2 linked regions of the Homo sapiens genome follow. The protein of the gene in region 2 interacts with the protein of the main gene of each other region in a pairwise test. Each region holds a gene or a part of one and is shown on either strand. Other genes may lie near its edges.

Evidence for each region.
Region 1: the proteins of CCNG2 (region 2) and NRIP2 interact in a two-hybrid assay, tested with the Homo sapiens proteins (one large-scale study listed by BioGRID and IntAct).

What each region holds. Positions count from the first base shown.
Region 1 is NC_000012.12:2,832,121-2,836,525, forward strand, and holds the start of NRIP2 (nuclear receptor-interacting protein 2), read right to left. Parts: upstream 2,916-4,405; 5' UTR 2,864-2,915; coding exon 2,522-2,863; intron 97-2,521; exon of another isoform or gene 1-96. UniProt on the Homo sapiens protein: Down-regulates transcriptional activation by nuclear receptors such as NR1F2.
Region 2 is NC_000004.12:77,155,584-77,160,186, reverse strand, and holds the start of CCNG2 (cyclin-G2), read right to left. Parts: upstream 2,981-4,603; 5' UTR 2,681-2,980; exon of another isoform or gene 2,123-2,680; intron 2,024-2,122; exon of another isoform or gene 1,736-2,023; intron 1,655-1,735; coding exon 1,517-1,654; intron 821-1,516; coding exon 683-820; intron 1-682. UniProt on the Homo sapiens protein: May play a role in growth regulation and in negative regulation of cell cycle progression.

The sequences.
Region 1 (4,405 bases), on a different chromosome or scaffold from region 2:
TACCTACCGAATCAGATGTTTCATTGTGACAAGATCCCCAGGTGATTCATGTGCAGGTTAAAGTTTGAGAAGCACCAAAGTAAAACATGAAACTAACCATGTCTTCTCTTATTTAAAATGCATCAAAGACCCCCCACCCTACCCCGCATTGCTTTCATGATAGAGCTCAAGCTTTTGAAGGTGATCCACAGTCCACATGACCGGGCCGTGCCTCCTTCCCTGCCACTCTGTTTATGGGCCCCAGAAGCACCGCTCATACCAGGCCGCTTTTTGCCTCCATGTCTTCACTCCTCTCTCCTCTCTCCTCTCTTCCTGAAACTCCTCTTCCTCACTCTTCTCGAGGCTAGACTGGATGACTGGCTTAACACACTTTATTTGAGAGAGAGGTTGTATCTTAAGTTTGAGATTCTGTGTACATCCTATAATGCAGGATGTACCCTCTCCAGGATACCCTCTCTGAGTTCTTCATGCTCCTCTCTCCATACACGCCAAGCTGGGGTCCCTTGTCTTAGCTCCCTTTTCCATGCTTCTCACAAATGTTATGTATGGATTTTACTCCCCCATTAGCCTGGAGAGCGCTTGAGTCTACCTCACTCATTTTTATATCCCAGGGCATGGCTCAGCATCTAGTAGGCACTCAATAAATGCTTGCTGCAGACTGACTCTTCCCCCAGGCTCTATGCACCTCTCCACCTGCCCTCTCTCCTTGGGATCCTGGGATTGTTTTTCTACCCTTAGATTAATGAGGCCCTTGGGGTTGCTCCTGGCAGCAAGGCTGCCAGCAGTAGACCCAGTGCTGGGAAAAGTTCAGCGAGCTCTGGGATTGGCTGGAGAGACTGGCTCTGCACTTCCCATCTTCCACCTTCCCACGATGAACACAGGCTTCAGGCCCCTCCCGCTGTTGTGCAGTTTGCTCCTCAGCCATCCCAGGGAGGGAGACGATGGGGTCTTCCCTGCCTGTTGTGCCTTTGCTCCCAGAGCCATAGGAGGTAACTGCTAGGGATCAATTGGGGATATCCTAGGCAGAGGGGAGAGGTGAAAAGCCCGGGACTTTCTCATTAGAAGGCGGGACCTGCCACTCCGGGATGGCAATGTCAGTAGAGCACCTTCTCCTGGGGCCAAACACATGTAGGATGGTCCCCAGTAGGTTCCAGCCATTGAGAGCCGAAGAACCCGCTTCCCTGCTCCATCCCTGTTTTTCAGCTATGCTTGCTGCCACTGCAAGTAGGAATAAGCCCCTGGCAGTTCCCTGAATTAAGTCTCAGTGCAATCCCTTTTCTCGTTGGGAGCTAGGGAATTGCCAGACCTCTGGGCTGTGGTCCTGGTGGGGGCAACCCAGGCTGAGAGGAGTCTGGAAAGGTGGAGCTAAGTAGGGAAAGGCGAGGTGCTGCACTGGCCTTCAGGTTCCCGGGGAGAAGCAGTTGGTGGAGCACAGGCCTGCAGACATGCTTCCAACCTGTCAGTACAGGCCTGGTTGAGTACCTCTTCTCAGACTAGGAGAGGGGACAGGGAACCGAGTGCTCCCAAGCCTTTCTACAAAGGATTTCCTCTCTTCCACGGGTCAGAGGCCAGGAATATTTCTCAGACTAAATGGAGTAATAGCTGGGGGAATAATAATAATAGCATTTAGATAGTGCCTGCTATTAGGCACTGTTCTAAGTGCTTTAAATATATTAGCTCTAACAACTCTCCCAACAATCCTATGATTGATTTGATTCTCATTTAACAGATGAAGAAACTGAGGCACAGAGACGTAAAGTCAATTGCACAAGTTAGTAAATGGCAGAGCCAGGATCTGATCCCAAGCGAAGTGGCTGCGCAGCCCCGCTTGTCAGCATTGCCTCTCAGAGGGGAATGCCTGAATCTGCAGTTTTCCGCCGCCCACTCACATCCTCACTGTTACTCCCCTGCCCCATTCCTCTGAGGCCAAAGCTGCTGCAGACATGGGATGGGAGGAGAGGAGCCTGGAAGGTCCATTCCACTCAGGAGTTGGGGGAGCAGCACTCAAGGCGGCCAGGGGCCCCCGGCAAGAGCCACACAAAACCCTGATGCCCTGGGAAGGATGGAGACCCCCGATGTTTTGATTCTGAGGAGAAAGGACAAGTGGATAGACAGACCTGGTCTGGGGAACCTGTGGTTCGGGGGAAGCAGGAAGTCACAACCCTAAACTGGCCAGTCCTCCAGGCCCTCCTGGTTGTAAGTGACCACTCTAGAGGGTTCCTGTGTTCCTGTAAGCCCCCACTTCTAAACAGCCTAGCTCCTCACCACCCTCAAGTTTGGGGCCATTAGAGGAAAAAGGGAAGCCAAGCAATGAGAGAATAGGAACCCTCAGAGCCACCAAACCATGGGAACATCCCCGGTGAAGAGCCTTGAGTTGGCAGGATGACCTCTCCCCATCTCAGCAAGGGAGCGGGACCTGAAAGCTGAGGGTCTGCACTTTCTGGTCCTGCCTCCTGCTCAGGATCTGGGAAGTGGAAGGAAAAGGCCAGGGGACGCTGGCAGGGGAGGGGTGATGCCTCACCAAGTCCTTGGAGGTGCCGAGCCTCTTGAGGCTGTCCAGCGGGAGCAGGTCGGCCGAGTCCTTGTGCAGGAACTGGGTGGCCTGTTTGAGCCGGCGCTGCTGGCTCAGGTGGGCTCGGTCTCGAAGCTGTGCCTCCTGCCCCCTCGTCCTGGCTTCTCCCTCATCTCTCCTGGCCTCCTGCTTGGTGCTCATGGCCCCTGCTGGAGGAGTGGGCCAGGGGCTGCTCGGTGGGGGCGTCACCGAGTCCTCTCTGCTTCTTCCTGCCTGTCTCTGTCCCGTGCTGCAGCTCTCTTTCCAACAGGAGGGTCTCCACGGGAGGGAAAGAGGAAAAATAAATAACATGCAGGAGCAGCCGCGTCAGTCTCCAATTTCCCGAGATTGCTGTAGAGGGAGTGAGACTCCGGCTGGAAAAACCCAGTCCTAGAAGAGAGGGAGGGTTGGCAGGGCCCACAGCTGGCTGACTTGGCCGCATCCCCAACGCTGGGGTCCTGGTCAGAGCGGGCGGTGGATGGGGCGTATGTGTGTGTGTGTGTGTGTGTGTGTGTGTGTGAGAGAGAGAGAGAGAAGGAGAGTGAGAGACAGTGCTGTAAACTGTCAGGGTGCCCGTGCCAGGTGGTTTGCGAGGAAGCGCTTGTCACTGTGTGGGGGCAGCAGCCTTAGTGCACCTCCCAGCGTGTGTGGCCCCCGCCCTCCTCTGCATCCCTCCCAGGCTTCCCAGGACTGCCCAGCTGTTTTCTCCTGGCATTATCTGCAGCCCAGGGCTGGCGCGCAGGCCAGTAACTGGGTTCAGATCAAAGAGGGGCAGCATGAGAGCGTCCTTCCCTCCTCTCATCCCCCTAGCCTTACCTTGTTAGGTCTCTTGCCTCCCGCCTAGCAGATGTCAGAGTCTTTAACTAATTGACTCTGGATTCTGGGTTCCAGGGAATGACAGGAACAACTCTGAATCTTCCCACGAGTAGAAATTGTCCCTGGCATCTCAGTCTCCTTTATATGACTCTCCTCAAGTCCTGGCTCTTTAAAAAATGTTGCATTTCAAATATACAGAAGTTATAAAGAATAAGATAACCAGTACTCTTCACTCATCACCAGTTTAAAAAATAAGCTGTTGAAGCTCCCTGTGCACTTCCACTTCCGCCTGCTGAAATTGGTGTTTATCAGGCCCAGACTTCTTTATATTCTTTATGCAAATACTTACATATGCATTCTAAGCAATATGTCGTTGGTTTTGTCCTACTCACTGTATTTATTCTTCTGCAATCTGCTCTTTTTTGCTGAATAGTTTTTGTTAGTGAGATTCATCCATACGGTATGCCCAGCTCTAGTTAATTGACTTCACCTGCTGTGTAACATAGTATTCCATTAGATGCATGCATGACATTGAGGAAATGTAGGTTATTTTTCATTTTTAGGTCTAACAAACAATGCTGCTATGAATATTTTTGCACACATCTCCTGGGGCACCTATGTAGGCATTTCTCTAGAGTATACACCTACACCTAGGAGTGGAATTGCTGGGGCATCCCATATACAGCTTTGCCTTTTTGGCATATTGCCAGAGTGTTTTTACCAGTGCACACTGAGACAGCTGCACACAGGGGCTCCTGAGGTTCCACATCCTCTCCAGGACTTGGTATCAGACTTTTTCTAGCCCTGGCTTATCAGCAGATTTTTCTCTCCAGCCTTTCCTCTTCACCATCAGGGAAACGCATTGGCCAAGCACCTGTTTACCTGTGTTGGATGCTCACAGGGTGATTACCCCACCTGAGCCCTGCTCCCTAAGGGTGCAGTCTGACTCAGACAGCTCCAAGGCACATGTACTTTCAGACAAACCAGATGTCTGCTGAGCTTCTAGGAACCAAGCCTCTTTGAGACACTTTCACAACC
Region 2 (4,603 bases):
TGGGATATTAAAATATTTTATACTTATCTTTTTACATAAAAATCTTTAAGAGTCATTCCATATTTCAATGTAATTTTGCCCAAGAGAAATATCACGAGTTGTGCAGAGTGGGACATATGTAAAAGCTGCCATGGACAGATGGCGGCCCTTTTCTTTTCAGTGCCCTGAGAACTGACCCAGCAGCTGACAGCAATCCTACTGGCAGAAGATTCCCCACATTTTTCTAGCCATTGCTGGTGACTGTTAATAAAACCATGGCTCCCTGCTTTGAAGAGACTTCTAGGGAAGGCAGCCGGTCATATTTAATAAACTGTTATACTTCATTTGTCATGCTTCAGTATTTTAAAAATCTGGCTTCAAGAGAAGCATGATGGCAGATGAAATCTTATATTGAGGACTATAAATATATGGCAAATACCTAAAAAATAGTAGTCTCTCTTTTGTCACATATTCAAGAGAAAGTACTTAAGAGGTAAAACCTAAGACACAACAGAAAAACCTAAGATACAACAATACAATTAATCTTGTAGTCTTATTCTGGCACTAACGATCACAATTCTGATTATAAATTTTTATGTACAGTGGACGTTATTATACCCATTCGATAAATATTTCTTGAACCCTGTGTGCTAGGCACTGGGCATAGAAAAAGGAAGACATATTTATAAAAATGATGAAATACCTTCATAAGAGCCAAGAACCTGTCCAAAATATTGACAGCCAGGACAAAAGTTTCAGTGCAAGATCCAAAAAAGTTGGCTAAACTCCTTAAATCTTCAACTTTGGCATTTCTCAATCCTGGACACAAAGTGTTATCATTCTGCAATAAAAACCAAGAACCAAGGTTTACAATTTTCTTAGAACCAGATGAAAAACACATACAGGTCCAAAGAATAAGGTTAATTTTTTCCCAAGAATAAGGTTAATTTTTTTCCCTCAATCTTCAAGAATATAGGTGGAAAGAGTGGTATCGCTTAACTAAAGCTATACACTTTATCATCTGTAAGACGTAAATCACTGCTTCTTAAAAATACGCATCATAAAAGAGCTTCAGCAATTCAATATAAGGTGAACTGTTGCAAGATTTCAGAGAGTTATAGCAAATATAATTCAATTCCCTTGGAATGGAGAGAAAGGGTTCTTTTGTTTGCTTTTCTAAAGTCATTTAAGATTCTACTATAAATATGTATTTCACAGGCAGAGGGTGTTTGCACAAATGAACTACTCAATTCACCCGGGGTCTCCCATCCTGAAGCTGCAGGCTGGAGTATGGGGGGCAGCGAGGAGGGTGCCACATTAAAAACAACAACAAAAAACCCCACTTCTCTAAAGTATCACTCTCATTCTTGCTAAGAAACAAAAGCATTAACCTGTAATAAGGTTTATCTTGGTACTCCAGAAAGAACAACTTTTAAGAAATTTTGCAGGCTTTAGTCATGATTCAACGGGGGCGGGGGGGTTACCTCCTCCAAGCCCCATCAGCTGCTTGAGCAAGTTATCTTTTCTGCCAACTTACCTCCGGGGTAGCCTCAATCAAACTCAGCCCTTTTTCTCGAGGTTGGAATCTCTCTTCTTGTTCCAGGTAGACGTTCAACAACCCGAGAAGTTGGACCCCTTCATGACCTGCCAAGTGCTCTGCCCCCAAATCCTTCATCTGCAGTAAAGACACCACACAGAGAATGTAATCTGGGGGTAAGAGGGGTGGGGAAGCGGGAGAAAGGGCTGAGGCCAGTACCTCCAGCAAGGGTCGCCCCAGCACACCCCGACAAGGAGCGGGTGAAGGGACCAGTCACGTCCGCCAGAGCCCCAGGGCAATCCCCACCACGGCCAGGGAGGTGTGGCAGGGGGAGGAGCCGTGGTCAGGTCCGCCGGCCAGCGCTGGGTAAGACCGGCCAGCCCTGGCCTCTTGGCGTTTCACAAACAGGAAACTGTCCGCGGGCGCCGGCGTCCCCTCGGTCTGCCCCACCTGAAGTCGCGCCAGGGAGGGCCTTCTGCCCAGGGGACTGCAGTGTGGCGAGCGACTGCAGCGGGTCCCGGGGATGGGGTGTTGCACAATAGGGGGGAGGGGAGGGAGAGTCTCGCGACTGAACAAAGAAGCGGAGGGAGGAGACTCCCGAGCCCCGCCCGCCCGGGGCGCCCAGCTGCAGAAGCCCCTCTCGGAGAGTCCCGCCCCCAGCTTTTCCCGTCCGCTGCTGCAGCGCCGATTCCGGACTTACCCGAGAGGCGGATACCCCCGTCCCAGGAGCCCTGGGGTGGCGCGGCACACCCGGCTACGGTCCGGGGAGAGAAGTCCAGTCCAGCCCGCCCGCCCCGCGCCCGTAGGGACAACACCCGTCCACCCACTGATGCCGGGGCCCCACAACTCTGCAGAGCCCCGGGGCTGTCAATTCGAGAAGCACCACGCCAGCAAGTCCCCGTGACAACACGAGCGGGGGCGGGGGGCACCGAGGCGGAGACTGCCCTTAACCTAGTCGCAACCTCCTTCCACCCCACGAGCATCTATCTGTCCATCGCGGGCGCCAGCTCCCCCCGGGGCTGGGGCTGAGGGCAGCACCCTGGTCGCTCCAGCGGATGAGGAGCAGGCAGCACCGAGGCACTCGCATGGTACCAACCTCCTCAAAGCCCACAGTCCCCACCACGAACAAAGAAACCCACGGCGGCCCTGGGCGGGTCCACTCACCGTGCCGGAGACGCGCCTCCACCCGCCCGCGGCCTCGCGGTCCGCACGGACTGGGCGCAGCGGGGGCTTCCAAACCTGTCTCGCAGGTCGGGGACCCACCGCCTCAGCGGTGCCCCCGGTCCGGCATCCGACCCTTCCTCCCAGGCACCGCCGCCTCGGCCTCACAGCCCCGGCTCCATCCCGCTCCCCGCGCGCCCACCCTCCGCCGCGGCGCAACGCCGGCCGCGGAAGACCAGCCCACCGCCGCACCCCCGCCGCCTCAGCGGAAACCTCCCCGAGCCCCTTGTTTTTGTTAAGAGTTTCGACGCCCCCAAGGGGGCGGGGCACGTGACTCCCCGCGGAGGGATCCTGCACTTCCTCCACGGACTTTAAAAAAGAGTCCCGCCCCTAAGCTGCCGTCTCGAGCCTCTCTCGCGGCCTCCCTAGCTCTCCTTGGCTTTGCCGAGCCAGTCCTCCCGCCTGGCGCTAGGGCGGAGAGCGGAATCTGGGCGTCGGGCTTATTCCGCGATTGATCTGCGTTGGGGAACGGGGGAAGACAGAGGGGCGGAAGGAGATCGTTTCTGGTCTCATTACGCCTTTTAAAGGTCCCCGATTTGTTTTGTTTTCGCTGTTTTGAAAAGTCCGCCCAAAGTAGCCGGCTCTCTGATTGGATGCGGGTGGGGCGATGGGCATGCTGAGGACCTGATTCACCCTCGAATCTGGATTGGCTAACTTATCAGTCTTGGAGCCCTCTGATTGGCTTTCTCCGTAGCCTGAGCCTCTCTCTGCCTTGGGGCCTTAGCAACTCCAGGGTCTGGATTGCGCATGCCTGGGTGTGCAGCGGAGAAGGTATTCAGTTACCTGCCCTGCGGGGCTGTGCCTTCTCGCCTGGCTGCCTCCGCCTTTCTTGGGGGAATGTCACGCTCGCGGCGCTTCTCCTAACAGCTAACCTTTGTGACAGCCTTTTCAGCCACGGGAGAGTTTTCTACATTCCTTCTTTATTTTGTCTTGGCGTTCCATTTTGCAATAACCCACCAAATTATTATAACATTGTCGGGGCGTTTACTAAAATATTCAATAAATGCTACAAGTTTGGGTATTTGCTTTAAAATTTTACAGTCCAAGAGAAAAAAAAATGGAGAAGAGAGGTGAAATAAGATAGGCAAAAAGTTGAGGGTCGAAGCTGGGTGATGGGTACTCGAGGCTGCATTACAGTATTCTTTCTAGTTCTGTGTCTTGGAATTTTTCCATAATTTAAAAAAATTCAGGAGGGACTGAAGGAGGGGCTTTTCAATAAAAACTTAGCACGCTGATGAGGGTACGTAAACATCTAATAATTACGGCGTACCTCCAGAGGTTGTAGTGCTGTTGTTTTAATGAAGACTCCCAGAGCTTCTTGGTCCTTGGTAACCCATAAATTATCATTTATTGTTCATTATAATTAGCGTTGTTATTATAGGCGACACGTCTCCCAGGACGGGACAAAAAGCAAACAAACCAGGTGCCTTAGGCCAGAGACACTTTCACACGGAATATCAATGGGGCATGTGGTTGACTGCCCTGGAACATTTATTTGTTTACTCTCTCCCTCCTAAATTAGAAAATACCATATTCGTGAGTTCTAATCTACATAATCAGATAGTCCCTGGGAAGAGATTTCTCCTTTCTGTTCTTCTATGTGTTTTCTGTGAATTATTTTGTTACTTGTGAAATATGGGAAGGCACACAACATAGCTTTGGCAGCGCTCTTCTTTGCGGAGCAGCTAAGGAATTTTAAAACTAGGTCCCTTTGCATATTAGCTCGGACTAAACACAGGCATCTGTTTGGAGCACAGAGCAACTGGGGGAAGGCAGCCCAAAAAGCTAACACTTATTTCAGAGAGGTGTGAGCTTGGTGAGGGTTTTGGAAAATAAGATAAAATTAGCACACCAGTTTTAAATGAT